Regions from separate parts of the Homo sapiens genome. Here region 2 is linked to region 1. A link means that fine-mapping ties the variant in region 1 to the expression of a gene that starts in the linked region. Tissue or cell type: neutrophils. Region 1 holds a variant in brackets; the other region holds the start of a gene. All regions are shown on one strand. Distances are between the middles of the regions.

Region 1 (10,030 bases):
CCTGGCTAGAGAGCAAGACTCCGTCTCAAAAAAAAAAAAAAAAAAAGAATAGGCAAATAACTAGAGAAAAATAGTCCAGAAACAGACCTGAATATATATAGGAATTTAGAATATGAAAGTGTCAGTGTGTAGGAAGGAGTGAAATGAAAAAAGAAAGAAAAAAGGAATATGTTGAAAGTGGCATTCAGAAATCAGGGAGAAAATGATCGATTACTAAGAATGATCCTGTAACAGTGGGCTGTTTGGGGAAAAATACGTAAAGATTTCTAATTTAGACTATATTCAAATAATCACCAAATTATATAGAGCAGGGATACCCAACCTCCAGGCCACAGACCATCCTGTTAGGAACTGGGCCACACAGCAGGATATGAACTTTAGGCCAGGGAACATTACACCTGAGCTCTGCCTCCTGTCAGATCAGCAGCAGCATTAGATTTTCATAGGAGCACAAACCCTACTGCGAACTGTACACTCCAGGGATCTAGGTTGTGTGCTCCTTATGAGAATCTAATGCCTGATGATCTGAGGTGTTGCAGCTTCATCCCAAAATCTGAAACCATATCCTCCACCCCTCCATTTCATAGAAAAATTGTCTTCCACAAAACTGGTCCCTGGGTGCCAAAAAGATTGGAGACCGCTGATAATAGAGTATATATAATCAAATTACAGAAATAACCACACTCTATTCTTCCTCTAGAATATACTGAATGTTTCCTAAGAAAAGTTGAACACTCATGGCTGGTTGGCTGCTCTCTAGCACATCTTGCCTTCGTCTCTCACTAGTTGAATTTTACACTTCCAGGGGTCAGTATGTTTGTTCCAAATCTGCTTATGCCAGTTACATTTAGTACTGTAATTTTATAATTTAATTAAACATTAACTAATGAAATATGACTGCAAAAAGTAGTTGTTTTTAGGAAAATTAAGTTGTAGATCTTGAACAAATTGGATAAATACAAATCCCCTTTTCCCCTTTTCACCAAATTACTGTCTTACTAATTGTGGGCGTGAATATTTTGAAAGATTGGGGGTGGAAATCATAAAATTCTTTTTTTTTTTTTTTTTTTTTTTTGCTCTTGTTTCCCAGGCTAGAGTGCAATGGTGTGGTCTCAGCTCACCACAACCTCTGCCTCCTGGGTTCAAATGATTCTCCTGTCTCAGCCTGCCGAATAGCTGGGATTACAGGCATGCGCCACCACACCTGGCTACTTTTTTGTATTTTTAGTAGAGACATAGTTTCTCCATGTTGGTCAGGCTGGTCTCGAACTCCTGACCTCAGGTGATCCACCCGCCTCGGCCTCCCAAAGTGCTGGTATTACAGGTGTGAGCCACCACACCTGACCTCGTAAAATTCTTAAACGATCTATACTCAGTTGTCTTACAGTTGCCTAGATTCTTGTTCCATTTAAAGAAACTGAAATTTGAAATCACAAATGTGGATTATGGATATGATGGGTTATGGATATGATATATTTGTAATGAATATGCAAGAGAGAACATTTGAAACATTAATTAGTAGAAATGTACTTAAAGAAGAGGCCTTGGTTTTTTACCGTAATATTGGCAGGTGACATGTATTTGTTTTGAGTAAAAATCAAATATTTCAGTTACATTTTTAAAATTACCTGATATACTGTACTTTTTCATGTAACCAGTCAGCCCTGAGTCCTATTTGTGTTAGATAAGTTTTTACCAATCCCAGAAGGAGATAGAGGACAAGCTTTTATATGCTTCGGCTGAAGAAAACCTTTCTCCAAAGAAGTAATTATCTGATCCTCCTATAAAGGGCCAGATAGTAAATATTTTAGATTTTGCAGGCTGAAGTAGAATCAAGGGTAATACGTACGTTCTGATATAACAAGAGAGAAAACAAATTTTGAGAAATTTCTTAATTGATTAAATTCAAAATAATAAACACAATTTATTGAAATACAGGTATACTAATGAGAAGAATGGAGTTCTTTTCGGAGTGATAACATTTTCTTAATTGGAGTTCAGAGTTAGTGCTTCCTATTCAATAAATAATCATCAAAATTGATTGCAAGTATTTATCTATTAATGCAGGTCTGTAATGAGGTTTTATATATTTCATCTTTGACATGTCTTCACACATACATGTCAAATAATTGATACCAGCCCATAAACATATGATTTTAATTGAGCATATTAATAACTCAGGAAGCATTTATAGAATTAGGTTTTTCTTATAACATTTACCTTTTAGTATATTATTCATTGCTGCTTAATTACTTCCAATGGAAGGTTAGACAGAAGCTCCACAATTGCACTGTTAAATAGATACTGAAATATAGATATTTCCTTGTGCATTAAGGTCCTAAAAATTATTCTGGAAATGTAGTGTGAGCTAAGAAACTATATCCACTGCAAATTTGTTTGGGAATGGAGATCTCACTTCTTGTTTTAACTTTTGATAGCATGTAAAGTGTATAAAGCAGCTCAACGTTGCTTATGATTCAAAAGTTAGTTGTCTAAATAACAACAGTTTAAGTTTCATATATAAGTGTTGTTCTGTCCTGTAATTTTAAGTTGAATTTACTATTATAAAATTAGCAAAAGCTAATTCTCAAAGCCATTTATTGTTTGATCATAGTGTCTGAAAGCAGTCTTATTGTTGTGAAAAATTTCAATCTCAGTTCCAAGCTGAAAAGAAAAAAAAAAAAGCATGATAAAACTTTAGTACAGCTCAGCCGTCAAACTGCTGTGTGCCTGGGCAAGTCAGGTTATTCAGCTTCTGTTTCTGACAATGGTTAAGCCCATGGCAGTGAATGAAATTCACCATTAACATGGTTGGTTTAATAATTCATGATAAATTCAGATATTTTTCATAGAATATCTATTGATAAAAAACATGAATAACCACCTTACATTTTCACGTTTTATAAATCACCCAACTAAGCCTTTTTCTGCTTCACACATATTTTTACCATTATCAATGATAACGTATCTGAGATTCCACTTTAGGTTATATGGAATTAGTACTTTTTCACCTTCTTGTTTGTAGTTGTTCAACACAGACTATTCATAGAAGCTAATTCTTCAGTTGTTTTAAACTTGGCACTGACTCCTTGAATAAACATCTGAACAGTGTTGTAACATCTATCAAACTCATTCAAAAGAGATGGAAATCTACTTAACCTCAATTGCCTTGGTTTTTTTTTTAAACAGATTATTGATCTTGCTCCTAATATTTTCGACTTTTAGAGCAAATGATTTTGTTGAAAGGCTAATAGTCTTTTTTTCTTTTTAAATTATCTTATATTAAATTTAAAAAATAATTTTTTTGTTACCTGTCTGGAGAAAGCCTAGAGAAAGGCTAATTAATACTCTTAAACAAGTTTATTTTCTCTGGATACATTTCTTCAGCTTCTTCATGATTTAATTCACTTATCACTAGAATATTACTTTTCTTGCTTTGCTAACAAATGAGCTACTTAGAAACTTCCCTCCTTTACAAACTTTCTATTCCTTACCTTCCCTCCTTGCTGTAATGAAATATTCCACTTTAAATTTTCAAATTTTTCTGACCATTGCTTTCCTGTGAATCGGAAATACTGTGATCGGTCCTTAGTTTGGTAACATTGATGTATTTTGAATTCTTTTAGCACAGACAGACAGTTGACTCCTTGAACAACGCAGTTTCAAACTGCACAGGTCCAATTATATGAGAATTTTTTTTCAATAAATACAATCAGCAGTTTATACATATACAACCAAACGTGGATCAAAAATACGTTATTTGAGGAAACCCCCAGATACAGAACAGTGAAATTTTTGTATCCTCTGGGCCACTGTGGGACTTGAGTGTGCATAGATTTTGGTATCCACGGTTGATCCACAGATACCAAGGGATGACCGTAGAGTCATTGCATAATAAACAAAATGCTTCCCTATCTTGTCTTGATAAAATAATGCATACCCTCCACTGTGCCTTAAAAGCATGACATTCAGGCTGGGTGTGGTGGCTCACACTTGTAATCCCAGCACTTTTGGAGGCCAGGGTGGGAGGATTGCTTGAGCCCAGGAGTTCAAGACCAGCCTTGGCAACATAGTGAGAGTCCATCTCTAGTTTTAAAAAAATACAAAATTAAAAAAAATGAAAAACATGACATTCAAAGTGCATTTGTTTTTGTTTCGACATGATGGTTATGCACTAATAACTAATGATAGTTATGTACTAATAAAATGTCAAAATAATAACGACTTTTAGTTACTGATAACAGTTATGCATTAATAAAAAATAAAATGTCACAGTATGACAATATGCATGTGTGGCACCAAACATGCTGTTGAGTTATAACTTTGTGACTGTGATTTGTGGGATACTGAGCAGCAGTGGAAAGCTATATAAGCCACTCCACTCTGCCAGTCAGTACAGTGGCTGATTACCAATTATGGATAACCAGAACACATCAAAAAGCAGTTCAACAAGGATCAGAATAATAACATGTAAGTACCATTTATTAAGTAGTTATGTGTAAGGCACTGTGTCAGACTGTATAATGTACATTATTTAACCTTCAAAAGATTGAGAGGGAAGATCCCTTGAGTCTGGGAGGTCGAGGTTGCAGTTAGCTGTGATTGCACCACTGCACTCTAGCCTGAGTGATGGAGCGAAATCCTGTCTCAAAAAACAAAACAAAACAAAACAGGCCTGGTGCGGTGGCTCATGCTTGTAAATCCCAGCACTTTGGGAGGCTGAGGCTGAGGTCAGGAGTTTGAGACCAGCTGGGCCAACATGGCGAAACCACGTCTCTACTAAAAATACAGAAATTAGTTGGTGTGGTGGCTCACACCTATAATCCCAGCTACTCGGGAGGCTGAGGCAGGAGAATTGCTTCAACCCAGGAGGCGGAGGTTGCAGTGAGCCAAGATCATGCCACTGCACTCCAGCCTGGATGAGAGTGAGACTCCATCTCCAAAAAAAACCAAAACAAAACAAACGAAAACTACAAAAGATTGTCTGAAGCCAGCCACAGACAATAGTAAATGAATGAGTGCAGCTACATTCTTTCTTATTTATGGATGCAGAAGTTTGAATTTCATATAATTTTTCCGTTTCACTTATATATAAATTATATATTATATATTACATAATATATAATATATATTATAAGATAATATAATATATATTAGATAATATATATAATATAAGATAATATATATTAGATAATATATATAATATAAGATAATATATATTA[T/G]ATAATATAATTAAAATATATTAATTATAATATATAATATATGACATATATATGTTATATATTGTTATATATAATATGTGTAATTATATATTATAATATATGATATATATATAATCTATCATATATCATATATATAATCTATCATATATCATATATAATCTATCATATATCATATCATATATAATATATATCATATCATATATAATATATATGATGTATAGTATATATGATATATAACATATATATAATATATGATGTATAGTATATATGATATATAACATCATATATACTATACGTCATATATAATATGACGTATAGTATATATGATATATGATATATATACTATATTGTATATGATATATAATATGTATTGTATATTATATATAATATATATATAAGGCACAGTGGAGGGTATGCATTATATATAATATGTATTATATATTTTATATATTATAATATATATTTTATATATAATATATTTTGTATATTATATATTTTATATATAATATATTTTGTATATTATATATTTTATATATAATATATTTTGTATATTATATAATATATAAAATGTATATTATATATAAGTAAAGTATATATTATATATAATTTTTATATATACTTTTTTTTTTTTTTTTTTTTTAGACTGGATCTTGCTCTGTCACCCAGGCTGGAATGGAGTGGCTGGGACTACAGGTGTGTGCTATCATGCCCAGCTAGTTTTTTTTTTGTTTTTTTTTTGTTTTTTTTAATTTTTTTTTTTTTTTTAAGACGGAGTCTCGCTGTCACCCAGGCTGGAGTGCAGTGACATGATCTCGGCTCACTGCAAGCTCCGCCTCCCGGGTTCACACCATTCTCCTGCCTCAGCCTCCCAAGTAGCTGGGACTACAGGCACCCACCACACGTCCAGCTAATTTTTTGTATTTTTAGTAGAGACGGGGTTTCACTGTGTTAGCCAGGATGGTCTCGATCTCCGGACCTCATGATCCACCTGCCTTGGCCTCCCAAAGTGCTGGGATCACAGGTGTGAGCCACCGCACCCGGCCTACTTTTTATTTTAACTTTTTTTTTTTTTTTTGTAGAGATGTGGTCTCACTGTGTTGCCCAGGCTGGTCTCAATCTCCTGGGGTCAAACAGTGCTCCTGCCTCGGCTTCCCAAAATGTTGGTATTACAGGTATGAGCCACTTTGCCTGGCTATCTTATAAATAATTTTGATGTTAGGAATTTTTAGTTGCTTTTATTTTTATTTTTGTTGTTTTAAATATTTATTAATAGAAGCAAGGGGTGGATAAATCTTCTAGATCAAACTCTTCCTTAAAATAGTTCTGCTTTTGGTAGGATTCCAGATTTTCCTAGTTTTGTTAAGTGTTTCTAATGATGTTTGGCATAGGTGTTAACTTCATGGGCCTGTTGTATACAAACCAATTTTTTTCTTGCTCTGAGTGAACAGTAACAGAACCTGGTAGGTGAGTCACACTGATACTGCATTCACTGAAGTTACTAAGCTGAATGATAAGAGATGAGAATCCTTTGCATTTGTATTCAAATCAAGAGTTGTAGAATTTGAAATTCCTGTTTTGATGAACTATGTGAAGCATGCTGTCATTCTTCTCTGCTAGTCTATGTTGATGATGTCATTAAACTAGTCTTTGACTTTTAGTTCTTGGCTTAAAATATTGGAATGATTATATAATAAATAGGTTTATTTCATGTGGAAAAGGAATAATGTGTTTGCCCTGAAATAGTCTGATCTGATCAGGAGGATATTATGCTGAGCATGGCTGGAAATAAATTTGTAGCACCAATTAAATACACTGTAGCAGCTCTGAGAGGGAATAAAAGTAAAATATAAATAGTAAATATGAGAGAAAGTGACTATGGGATCTAACTATGTAAGAGCAGGGTGGGAGTATGGGTAGATACGTACATGCCCCCTAGATTTTAGGAAAGCATATTTCAAGAAGTAGAGAAGACATGGATATCAATCAGTGGAAATCGTATACTAAAACGGAAGTCAGTGAAAAAAAAAGACTGCTCTCAAACTAAAGATAGATGGTTGCTTCTAATAGGTAGGTATTCAGATTCGATTAAGAAATTAGAAGGCCGGGCATGGGGACTCAGGCCTATAATCCCAGTACTTTGGGAGGTCATGGTGGGCAGATCACTTGAGCCCAGGAGTTCGAGACAAGCCTGGGCAACCTGGTGAAACCCCATCTCCACAAAAAATACCAAAATTAATTAGCAGGGTGTAGAGGCACATGTCTGTATTCCCAGCTACTCAGGAGGCTGAAGTGAGAGAATCACTTGAGCCTGGGAGGTTGAGGCTACAGTGAGCCGAGATCACACCATTGCACTCCAGCCTGGGTGACAGAGTAAGACCCTATCTCAAAAAACAAATTTTGAAAATATACAGAAGTATAGAAAAACTGAAGTAATTTAATTTGTGTTAAAATCTGTTTGGTATTAAAACTAATGTTTGGCCGGGCATGGTGGCTCACGCCTATTAATTATCCTAGCACTTTGGGAGGCCGAGGCAAGTGGATTGCTTGAGCTCAGGAGTTCAAGACCAGCCTGGGCAACGTGGCGAAACTCCGTCTCTACAAAAAATACAAAAATTAGCTGGGCATGGTGGCTCACGCCCGTAGTCCCAGCTCCTTTGCAGGCTGAGGCAGGAGGATCACTTAAGTCCAGGAGGTGGAGGTTGAAGTGAGCTGAGATCGCACCTCTGCACTCCAGCCTGGGTGACAGAGTGAGACCCTGTCTCAAAAACAGACAACGACAAAAAACCCTAATGTTTTATGAAAAAGCTCTTTAATTTTTCGTGACCAAACTGCTATTCTCTAGACCTACACTGTCCAAAATGATAGCCATTAGCCATGTGTGCTACTGTGTTGGACAGCACGTATTTAGAACATTTCCAACATCACAAAAGTTCTATTGCAGAATGCTATGAAAATGAGATACACTTTCATTAGAAAAGCTAGTAAAAATAAGTAGGGGTAATGGGGTACTTTGACTATCCAGAAATTTTACTAAGGAAGAATTAGATTTTTATAATACTGGGACATTAGTGTGCACTTTTTTTGTCGTAATTGCATTTTGTTTTTTATTTTGAAATAAATACATGTACAGAAAAATTGCAAGAATAGTTACAGAGTCTTTTCGCTCCCTGAACCATTAGAGAGTGAGCCCCATCAGCCCCAAATACTTTAATGAGCATTAAATCTGGAGTTTGGCCGGGCACGGTGGCTCACGCCTGTAATCCCAGCACTTTAGGATGACGAGGTGGGCAGATCATTTGAGGTCAGGAGTTTGAGACCAGCTTGGCCAACATGATGAAAACCTGTCTCCACTAAAAATACAAAAAAATGAGCCGAGCTTGGTGGTGCACACCTGTAATCCCAGCTACTCAGGAGGCTGAGGCATGAGAATCACTTGAACCTAGGAGGCGGAGGTTGCAGTGAGCTGAGATTGTGTCACTGCATTCCAGCCTGGGTGACAGAGTGAGACCCTGTCTCCAAAAATAAAATAAAATAAATCTGGAGTTTAATACCAGTACAGTACTACCAGCTTATCTTCAGGCCCCATTCGAGTTATTCTAGTTGTCCCCAAAAGGTGAAGGATCCAGTTTAAAATCACACATTGCATTTAGTTGTCATGTCTGTCTTTGACTTGATCGCCTTGACACTTTTGAAGATTACAGGCTCATTATTTTGAGGAAGTCATTAACATGGACCTGATGTTTCTTCATCTTTAGATTCAGATTATGCATTTTATCAGAATTGCCACATAAATTGTGCTGTGTTCTTATTTTATCCATCCAGGTACTACATAATTTCCATGTGTCCCATTTTTCTTGATGTTAACCTTGGTCACTTGATTAAGATTGTGTCTGCCAGTTTTCTCTACCATACATTTAACTATTTTTTCCTTTATAATCAGTATTTTATGAGGAGGAGGAGGAGGTACTTTGAGACAATGTAAGTATCCCATTCCTCATCAAACTTTCACCTTCTAGTTTTAGCACCCATTGAAATTTTTTTGCTGGATTATTGGTATGATGGCTGCCAAATGATGATTTTCTAATTTCATCATCCCTTCTACATCCATTCATTGACATTTCATTGAAAGGAAAAACTGTTTTCTTCCCATTTATTTAACTTATATCAATATGGACTTACGGATTCATATTTTATTCAATAAGTTATCTATTAGTGTACTTTGGTACTTTGATGCTGAGTTTGTCCCAGATTTGGTCAGTGGAAACCCTGTCAAGCTGGCTTCTGTATCCTTTTGACATTGTCCTATCATTCTTTGATCACTTTCCTCTTTCTGGGACCAGATATGATCAAAGCCCTTCTTATACTTTTCCTGCCCTACCTCTGGAATCATTTCACCAAGGTACCCTGGTTCCCTTTATTGAAGAATGTATTTAGAGGTTAGGTCTGGACAGTAGATGGCATTGTTCCACTGAGGTGTCACTGCTCCTAGACTTTCTCAGCAGACAGAGCTAGAGCATATATGCATGTATATACATACACAAACATACATCCACACACATAGACTCATTTTTTTATTTCTTGCTCTGTGTGTGTGTGTGTGTGTGTGTGTGTGTGTGTGTACTGTGAGTTCACACTGGTACCTAGTACCTCAACACCTCAGAGTTCATTTTATTTTTCTTCCTTTTTGTATTTGTAACTCCCTTCTCTGACAGAGAAACTGGGCCCCAGTTTTTCTTAATATATTACTATTTACTTAATTGATCAATCCCCTTGAATGTGCCCAGTCTTTCCTTTCCTTATCAGATCAT
Region 2 (10,030 bases), 240 kb before region 1:
GGACATTATGGGAGGGGGAGCTCAGGCCAGGGTCACTGAAAAGAGGCATGGTGGGCAGCGTGGGGGAAGAACAGGCCAAGATCACTTAGGAAGTGGAGATATTGGGATGGGAGAGGAATGGCGGACTTGAGGTCAGAGGAAGGGCCGAGGGAGAAAGCAGCCTCACCGTCTCAAAGACTGCGTATTCTGCACTATAGCTCTCACCAGGGACCACACCAGCTCCCCCAACCAGGCCAGCAGCCAGATTGTCAATAATGTTCCCATAGAGATTGGGCATCACAAGCACATCAAACTGGTAAGGATTCTGCACCAGCTAGAGGGTGAGATGCAGGCATGAAGTAAATTCCACTCCCCACCCTCCTCCTCCGCCCCATGAGTAGAGATGTGGGGAGGCCTCACCTGCATGCAGCAGTTGTCTATGATCATTGTCTCAAATTTGATTTTGGGGTACAGTTCAGCAACTTCCTCACAGCACTGCAGGAACAACCCATCCCCAAGTTTCCTGTCCATGGGCCAAAGGGGACAGAATCAGCCAAGAAAGTACAGGGGCTACCTTCCCAGGAACCCATCCTACACAAAGCCATGCCCCTCACATGATGTTGGCCTTGTGGACAGCAGTGACCTTGCCCCGCCCCTTCTTGGTGGCATAGTCAAAGGCGAACTTTGCAATCCGCTGAGACTTGGCTCGTGTGACAATCTTCAAACACTCAATCACACCCCTTGCACTCTGGGTAAGAAGAAAGCAGCAGCTAGGTGACACTGGGAAGGGAAACAAGGAGCTCCACCTCTCTCCCATCTTCATCCTTGCCCTCCCCCAGTTTCTGGGGCCTCACCTCATGTTCCAGAGAGCTGTACTCCCCTTCTGTCTGCTCTCGAATGATCACCAGGTCTAGATTGTTGTGCCGAGTCATATACCCAGGAAGTGACTTCACATGGACTACGTTGGCAAATAAGTCCAACTTACGCCTGAGGGTGGGCAGGGCCATCAGCTCTGCTCCTGGTGCCCTGGCACCTCTCAACCATTCACCCCACCCAGACCACCTACCTCAGCCGCATATCATAGGAGGCTAGCTCCCCCTTATACTCCATCGGGGTATGAATCTTTCCTGTGAAAACAAAGTGGGAAAAGGAGTGTCAGCCACAGGCCAAGCCCAAGGGAACTCAGACCAGTGTCTAACCCCCTTAGGAACATCATGTAACCCAGACTCCCATCTCCCATTCCCACATCAGTAAACTTTTAAATTGTCTCTGGGGGCAAGGGACAAAAGAGAATAATGTAGTTAAAGCCAGAAACATTTCATCTATTGCATTTTCTGTGTGTGTGTGTGTGTGTGTGTGTGCGTGTGTGAGAGACACAGGGTCTCACTCTGTCGCCCAGGCTGGAGTGCAGTGGCACGACCTGGGCTCACTGCAACCTCTGCCTCCCAGGTTCAAGCAATTCTCCTGCCTCAGCCTCCCCAGTAGCTGGGATTACAGGCATGTGCCACCACACCTGGCTAATTTTTTGTATTTTTAGTAGAGGCAGTGTCTCACCATGTTGGCCAGGCTGGTCTCAAACTCCTGACCTCAAGTGATCCACCCGCCCCGGCCTTAATGCTTTATTTTTAGTCAACATATTTAATTTATGTTGAAACTTCAAAACGGAGAACAGATTTTTTCTATTTATCAAAAAAGAGCCTGGGTTTAACAACAAGTTGAAAAACAATGCTAGCAGATCTGTGATCTTTTTATCTGTGCCTTCTCCTTATTTGACATTTTTTAACCCAACACCTACTGATGAATATCAATTATATGTCAGGCAATAAGGATAACAACTAAAACCATACAACTCCTGCCCTTGAGAAGCAAACGGTACACTGGGAAAGACAGAAAATATGAAAGACATGATAAGTACCATGGGAAACTTGCATAGCAACACAAAGAGGAAATCCTCTCCAGTAATATCAGGATACAGCACAGAAGAGCTGGCACTTCAGCCATGCCTTGAGCCCCAGAACCTATGTATGTGACCTTATTTGGGAAAAGAGGCTTTGCAGATGTAATTAAGTTAAGGATCTTGAGAAAAAATCGTCCCATCCAGGGCTAAATATTTGAGGAGAAAAATGATACCGAGACAGAGAGGGAAGAAAACCACAGATATTGGAGTGATGCATCTACAAGTCAAAAAACAGCAAGAGCCACCAGAAGAGGCAAGAAAGGTTTCTCCCCTAAACCTTCAGAGGGAGCAGGGCCCTGCCAACACCTTAATTTCAGACTGATGGCCTCCAGCACTGTGAGAGAATACATTTCTGTTAATGATAAGCCACCAGGTTCATGGTAGTGTGTTACGGCAGCTATGGGAAACTAATACAGTGAATGAGTGAGAAGGACTCTAACAGGTAGCACCAAAGAAAGAACGTTCTGGGTGGAGGGAACAATATAAGTCAGGTAGTACATATTTGGAATCTAACACACAATCTAGTGTGATTGAAGCACAGAACAAGAGTTGTGGAACCAAGGCAGAAAATTAAGGGCCAACTTATAAAGTACTGACTTTCCTATGGTAAGGCTGGGCCTGGAAAATCAGGCTGTTCTTTCCAAGAAGAGATATGGAAGATGAACTATAGGGGCAGAACTAGAAGCCAAAAAAATCAAATGAGGAGATTAAAGCGCGGAAGACAAAAGAAAAGGGGCAGCTAGGCACGGTGGCTCACGCCTATAATCGCAGCAGTTTGGGATGCAGAGGTGGGTGGATCACTTGAGGTCAAGAGTTCGAGACCAGCCTGGCCAACATGGTAAAACCCTCTCTCTACTAAAAATACAAAAATTAGCCTGGGCATGGTGGCTCACACTTGTAATCCCAGCACTGTGGGAGGCCAAGGCGGGCAGATCACAAGGTCAGGAGTTCGAGACCAGCCTGACCAACATGGTGAAACCCCATCTCTACTAAAAATACAAAAATTAGCCAGGCATGGTGGCACGCTCCTGTAATACCAGCCAGCTACTCAGGAGGCTGAGGCAGGAGAATCACTTGAACCCGGGAGGCAGAGGTTGCAGTGAGCTGAGATGGCAACATTGCACTCCAGCCTGGGCGACAGAGCGAGACTCTGTCTTAAAACAAAACAAACACAAAAATTAGCTGGGTGTGGTGGTGCACACCTGTAGTCGCAGCTACTCAGGAGGCTGAGGCAGGAGAATTGCTTGAACCAGGGACGGGGAGGTTGCAGTGAGCCGAGATCGCGCCACTGCACTCCAGCCTGGGCGACAGAGCAAGAAGAAACAAAGAGGAAGGAAGGGAGGGGAAAAAAAAAAAAAGAAAAGGGGCAGCTAAAAGTGGTATTCCAGAAATGCAATGAATAAGATTTGATGACAGTTGATGTAGCCTCAGGACAGACTCAGAACCCCTGGAACTTTTCTGCATAGACAGCTGACATGATCTCTCAACTCCTGGGCTCCCAATGGGAAGGAACAAATGTCCAAATACCAATGGTGGTTGCCCTGGAGTTAATATAATTGCATAGCATGTGGGGAGAAGGGCTTAATAAACATTTGGTCATTTGATTTTAAATGGCACATGGACAAGTGGCAAGAGGGCACACATACCAATGATGGCCACTTTGTTCTCCTTCATGGAACTCAGCACCTGCTCCAGCTTCTCCTCAGATGCCATATTCTGCACCTCACTCAGGTGGTGCTCCTGGAACTCCACTGGGACAGCGGCAGCCTTCAGAGACAGGTTCCCAAAACATCACAGTCAAGGCCAAGTCCTTTCCAACACACTACTGTCCTCTACTGTCTGATCCCCGAGGCCACTCACCTTGAACACCTCCTTGACGGCGTGCATCAGCTCAGGCCCCACACCGTCTCCCGGAAGCATGGTCACGGGAAAGGAGCCCTCCACCCTCACGTCCTCGGCCTCAATTGGGGGAAGAGGGGAGAAGTAAAGATAGAGCTGGGGCGGGAGCACGGATCCTGGGAGTAGAGAAGTAGGGAGACCCGGGAGGGGTGGGGAAAAGCCAGGGGAGGGAGCAGCGAGGAAGGGACAGGGTCGTAAGAGAGACCCCAGCCAGATTCGTGCATACCTGGCTCCGCGATGCAGCGTGCGCCGCGGCCGAGGTACTCAGACCTCTCCATGCCCCAGGGTTCCCGGCGGAGACCAGCGCCTGCAACAGGGACACACAAGCCTGTAAGGTCAGCTTTGAGACATCCAGACCCCGAACACTACAGTTGACTTTGCCCTGTTTAGGAAACCCTAGGACAAACTCTCCGCTCCTTCGCCCGCCCCTGCCCGACATGTCCCGGGGCCTCACTCGGGTCAGCCAGCGGACTCCGCTCAATGCCGCCATGTTTCCCGCAGGAAGTCGCGTGGGAAGTGACGCCTGAAGCTGGCGCGGCCCCGTACCCCGACTTCCGGCCTGTACTGAGTTCCTGGTATTTCTCTCTCTGCGCCAACCAGCACTGCTTGCTCACGCCTGTTTCTCCTTTTCCTTGCCGGTGGGGAGGTCATGGGATGCGCAAGCACTTTGTCTCTTGCTTTGTTTTCAGTCGCCATATTTAATCTACGTCGAAACTTCAAAATAACATTAGGGGGAAAAATGTAGCGTCATGTTTATCAGACGAGGACCTGAGCTTAACAAGCGATTGAGAGAAAATCCTTGGGAAGCTGTTAAAATTTGTGTGTCAATGCGTTTGTTATTCTTTTAACCAGTACTCACTGAATACCTGTATGTCAGGCTCTCGAGGAATACAGTACAGACATGGGAGGTGTGTGTCGGGTTTCTCCGCCAGTCTCCGAGAGTGCCCAGGACCTCTGTATTACCCGTCGCCTCGTAGTTTTTTCTTACAGGGTTTTGTTCTTTGCTCTGACAGTTATTTCCCTAATAGTGTGTCCCGGACTTGAACTCCCCAGGACAGGCCCATAACTAGTGTCAGAAATGAGTTCAAGCGTGTAAGTGTGACTAAAGGGAATTTCAGACTGATCCTTAAAGTAACAATCATAAAAACTAAAAAAAGCCTGGACAACATAGGGAGACCTCGACTCTACAAAAAATTTAAAAATTAGCCAGGCGTGGTGACACACCTGTAGTCCCAGCTACTTAGGAGGCTGAGGTGGGAGGATCACTTAAGCCCGGGAGGTGGAAGCCGTAGTGAGCCGTGATGGCACCACTGCACTCCAGCCTGGGAGACGGGGCGAGACCCGTCTCAAAACAATTACAGTCACGATTTTTTTTTTTTTTTTTTTGAGACAGAGTCTCGCTCTGTCGCCCAGGCTGGAGTGCGGTGGTGCGATCTCGGCTCACTGCAAGCTCCGCCTCCTGGGTTCACCCCATTCTCCTGCCTCAGCCTCCCGAGTAGCGCCCGCCATCACACCTGGCTAATTTTTTTTTTTTTTTTTTTTTTTTTTTGTATTTTTAGTGGAGACGGGGTTTCACCGTGGTCTCGATCTCCTGACGTCGTGATCCGCCCGCCTCGGCCTCCCAAAGTGCTGGGATTACAGGCGTGAGCCACCAAGCCCGGCCTCCAGTCACGATTTTAGGTGTGTACAATTGACACACCTAAAGACAAACTGGTACAGGAAGATTTGCCTCACCCGCTCTTCTGGAAGTATGGTTTTGGATCACCTATCCAGATGGACCAGAGCTCTTGTTAAAAGTGCAGGCTTGTGAGTCATACTTCATTTGCTGAATCCAAATCTCAGTGATGGGGGCCCAGAAAATATATCTCTAACAGGCTCCCCGTTAATACACACTGAAATTTAAGAACCACTAGCTAGGTTCTCTGTGATAAGTTCCTCCTTCGTATATACCTCAACCAGCCAAAAAGGTGGCAACGCAAAGGCATTCCCAGTGCTTCTATTCTTGGGGAATATGCATAGGCTTTGTGCCTCCTCTGCAATCCTTTAGGTGCGACATTCTCCTATATAGTAGTAGGATGAGAAGATTAAACTAGGTAATGTGTAAGAGTTTTGAACAAATGAAAAGTACTGGGTAAATATAGAGCTGTTATTATAGCTAATATAATATTAGTATAACACACTCCTCTATTTCCATTCATATATCCCATGAAACCAACCAAAACCAGAGAGCACCACCGTCTTGCTCCCATAGACTCCCTCGTCCCAGCTTCCACATCACTATTAATATTCGTCACTATTTTTCTTCTCCAAATATTTCTCCTTCTGACTAAGAAAAAAATGGAAGATTTATAACCTCTGCCTCCCGGGTTCAAGCGATTTTCCTGCCTCCGCCTCCCTGGTAGCTGGGATTACAGGCACGCGCCACCACACCCGGCTAATTTTTGTATTTTTATTAGAGACAGGGTTTCACCATGTTGGCCAGGCTGGTCTTGAGCTCCTGACCTCAGGTGATCTGCCACCCTCAGCCTCCCAAAGTGCTGGGATTACAGGCATGAGCCACCGCACCCCGCCAAATTTACTCTTTTTAAAAAACTACATTTTCTGTTACGTCAGGAAATGTGGGATAAGAAAGAAGAGAGATGTACCATCTTAATCCAATCTCTGATAATAATCTAATTTTCTTGAGGGTGACTACATCATTTCCATCCCTAAATTCTGCACAGACTTGTTCCCCACCTAACACTCAAAAAATATCTGCTAACTGATAAAACACTAAGTGGCCATCACCAGGGTGAAAGGAACTGATGGAGGTTACCAGTGGACACAGGCCAAGGAGATGAGACCATTATTGTCTGAAGGCCACTGTGTTCTCCCCATGAACTCAGCAAGCTCTCCTGGCCTTCAAGTCCCCATGAGGGCATCTTTGACCAATACTGCCTGATAATGGAGAAATCCTGTCAGGACCTTTGAAAAGTTTCTTAACCTATCTCCTGGGGGATGGGAGGGAGGTTATACCATCTTGTTCTCTTCTAACTGTTGTGGAGTCTCCTCTGCTTAGCACAAGAGGCTATAATGATGGATGAGCTGCCTACACTTGAGTGTTCAGTGTGAAGCTGAGTGACTTGAATGTCTGCTTCCCAGGCCTGCAAATCCTCCAGCACAGGAGTCCTGACTTGGGATCTACAGAACCCCCTAGGTGTCCATGAATAGGAATCAGCACTGTGAACCTGGATGGGGGAAAAACCAAAAATCACATCTTTATTCTCACTAACCTCTAACTGAAGTTTAGCATTTCCTTTCATTATGAATGCAGGTCACAGATTACAGTGCTGCCTGTAGTACTCTTGACTTTGTCAATCATAAAAAGTATAGATATTTTCATACCACATTTTAGTTGTAGTAGATCTCTCAAAATATCACTTACTTTAATCCTATTTTTACATTATTTGACCCAATGCTAGATTGTGTTATTTAATGAATTAATAAAGCAGCAAACATAGTAGTATGTTACAAGGTAGCTTTTATTCCTTTTCTCCTTTTAGAGAGATGGTTTCAGTCTGTTCCCCAGGCTAGGGTGTGATCACGGCTCACTGTAACCTCAAACTCCTGGGCTCAGGTGATCCTCCCACCTCAGCCTCCCAAGTAGCTGGGACTACAGGCATGCGCCACCATGCCTAGCTAATTTTTAAATATTTTGTAGACATGAGGTCTTGCTATGTCGCCCAGGCTTGTCTTAATCATATTTGTCTTGTAATTCTATTTATTTTATATACTTAAAAGTCTCTTTTTTTTTTTTTTTTTGGAGACAGAGTCGCTCTGTTGCCCAGGCTGAAGAGCAGTGGGCGATCTCAGCTGAGTGCAAGCTCCACCTCCCGGGTTCACACCATTCTCCTGCCTCAGCCTCCGGAGTAGCTGGGACTACAGGCGCCCGCCACCACGCCCAGCTAATCTTTTTGTATTTTTAGTAGAGACAGGGTTTCACCGTGTTAGCCAGGATAGTCTCGATCTCTTGACCTCGTGATCCACCCGCCTCGGCCTCCCAAAGTGCTGGGATTACAGGCATGAGCCACTGCACCCGGCCTAAAAGCCTCTTCTAAGAAAGGTTCCACAGGCTTCACCAGCCTTCCAAAGAGGTCCGCTGCACACAAAAGTTTCAGAATTTCTGGTGTATTAGGCCTACTGGATCTTTTTCTGAAACCATGAACAATCAAAAGAGTAATATAACCAATGACAATTCCTTGAAAATTAACGTCTGAAAAAGCTTCTTGGGAGAATTTGATCTGTGATTGAAAGGATAAACAGAATTACAGAGGAGAAGTGATTACACTCAGGGAAAATGGAAATGTAAGCAAAGCTACTGTTTCAGATCAACTGCCCTAGAAGCAGAGCCCAAGACAGGGATTCTATGCAATTGACCTGTTGAAGGAGTGCTCTCAGGAGAAACACATCAGAAGGTGAATGAGCAGAATATGGAGGGGAAGGAGCTCAGCAAGATGTGGCCTCAGCCAGAGTCCACCTCAGCCCCATCTCCTGGGGAGCTCTGGAGCATTAGTGACAACTCAAGGTTGTCATGATTTGAGACAAGGCTTAACAACCCTGCTTTGCCCCTGCATGGCATAGGCCAGGGCCAATCCTTCAGAGAAGGGGGAAGCTTTGAGCCGTTAGTGGCAAATACCTGAAGCAACTGGGGGAATGGATACACCAGCTTGCCAAGAGGACCTGGCCAAGGCAGACACTACCTTGCGGAGGTGACAGTGAACATAGCGTGCTGACGAACAGTGAGGTGGGCAGATATATTTGAGGAGATGAGTTATAGTGAGGATTGGTGAGTAAGTAGGACTGGTGCATGTTCAAGGTCCGAGAGAAACAGAGAGAGTTTTGTGAGCAATACTAAGCACCCTGTTGAGGTTGGTGACCATGAAGTTTATTGTGGTGCAATTGTGTGTGATTTCACGGTGAGAGCAAACCAAAAGTGAGTTCATCCAAAAGTGATATTTTGCTAGAGAGTGGTACAAGGGAGTTGAGAGTGTTGGCAAAATGGGATCAGGAGGCAAGTGAAGACAGAAGAGATCTAATCAACAGGCAGCTGAGGAAAGAATCAAAGACCCCCCCAAAATATTCAAAGAGTAGTACTTGTGGGAGTTGTTGAGCAAGTAACATGGGAAGAGAGGACGCTGCTTCCACCAGTGGTTTTGGAGGTGGAGTAGATGCTGGTGATAATGAAGTCCCAGATAGGAAATGGGAGTGGATGCCAAGGAGATCTCAAGGACCCTGCAGATGAGGACTCAAACCCACAATATTGATGAGGCATCCATGTCACCATGGGAGTCAACGAGGATAGTGGCCTCAGCTGAGGCAGGGAAAAGCTGGGATCCAAGTGACATAGTCTTCTCTTGATAAGCAAGAGAGACCAGGAGATGAGAGATGGCAGAGAATGAGAGAGGTGATATCAGTTACCAGAAAGAGCCCCTAAAAGGCAACACTTCTTTTTTTCCATTAGTTTTAATATAGAATTTTGCTTTAGTACTTTTAATTAGATAACCCTCTTTTAAAAATATATATTTTTTAAAATATATTTTTTTCTTACCATACCAACTCACAGCCCCAATCTTTTTGCCCTAACCTCAGAATCAGTTAGTTGTCCGCTTTAAAACCCTTTTCTTACACACACACACACACACACACACAGAATATATAGTATTGTTTTTGGTGTATGAGTGTGTGCGTCGGAATAAATGGTTTCATACTCTATATACTTACTGTTTTATAATTTACCTTCTTCACTCAACACTGTATCTCAGATGTCTTAGAGATCTAAGACACCATATCTTAGAGAATGAGCAGCCTCATTGTTTTATTCCGTAATATGAATTTACTAAATTTATTGGGCCTTTTTTTTTGAGACAGAGTCTTACTCTGTCACTCAGGCTGGAGTGCAATGGCACAAAATCGGCTCACTGCAAGCTCCGCCTCCTGGGTTCAAGTGATTCTCTTGCCTCACGCCCAGATAATTTTTTGTATTTTTAGTAGAGACAGGGTTTCACCATGTTGGCCAGGCTGGTCTCAAACTCCTGACCTCAGGTGAGCCACCCGCCTCGGCCTCCCAAAGTGCTGGAATTACAAGCATGAGCCACCGAGCCCGGCCTGAGCCTTTCTTAAATTGATGATAGTGTGGTTTCTAGTTTGGGCCATTAT

The links. PIP is the estimated chance that this variant, and not a neighbour inherited with it, causes the effect.
Region 2: IDH3B starts here. The variant in region 1 is fine-mapped to the expression of IDH3B in neutrophils (CEDAR, PIP 0.95).

The regions. Positions count from the first base shown.
Region 1 is chr20:2,904,640-2,914,669 of GRCh38, forward strand. The region is part of intron 1 of PTPRA (protein tyrosine phosphatase receptor type A); the gene reads left to right. Among named protein-coding and RNA genes, the nearest start is that of PTPRA, 36 kb to the left of the region's middle. The variant T/G (reference allele first, on the strand shown) is at 5,223.
Region 2 is chr20:2,659,864-2,669,893 of GRCh38, forward strand. It overlaps IDH3B (isocitrate dehydrogenase (NAD(+)) 3 non-catalytic subunit beta), which reads right to left and starts at 4,353. Exons shown (of 12, transcript NM_006899.5): 1 at 4,290-4,353; 2 at 4,062-4,142; 3 at 3,797-3,895; 4 at 3,583-3,703; 5 at 1,046-1,106; 6 at 834-966; 7 at 594-727; 8 at 400-502; 9 at 167-313. The coding sequence starts at 4,325. It overlaps IDH3B-DT (IDH3B divergent transcript), which reads left to right and starts at 4,411. Exons shown (of 3, transcript NR_186432.1): 1 at 4,411-4,743; 2 at 5,395-5,641; 3 at 7,645-9,590. RefSeq lists enhancers at 2,630-3,417, 4,991-5,776.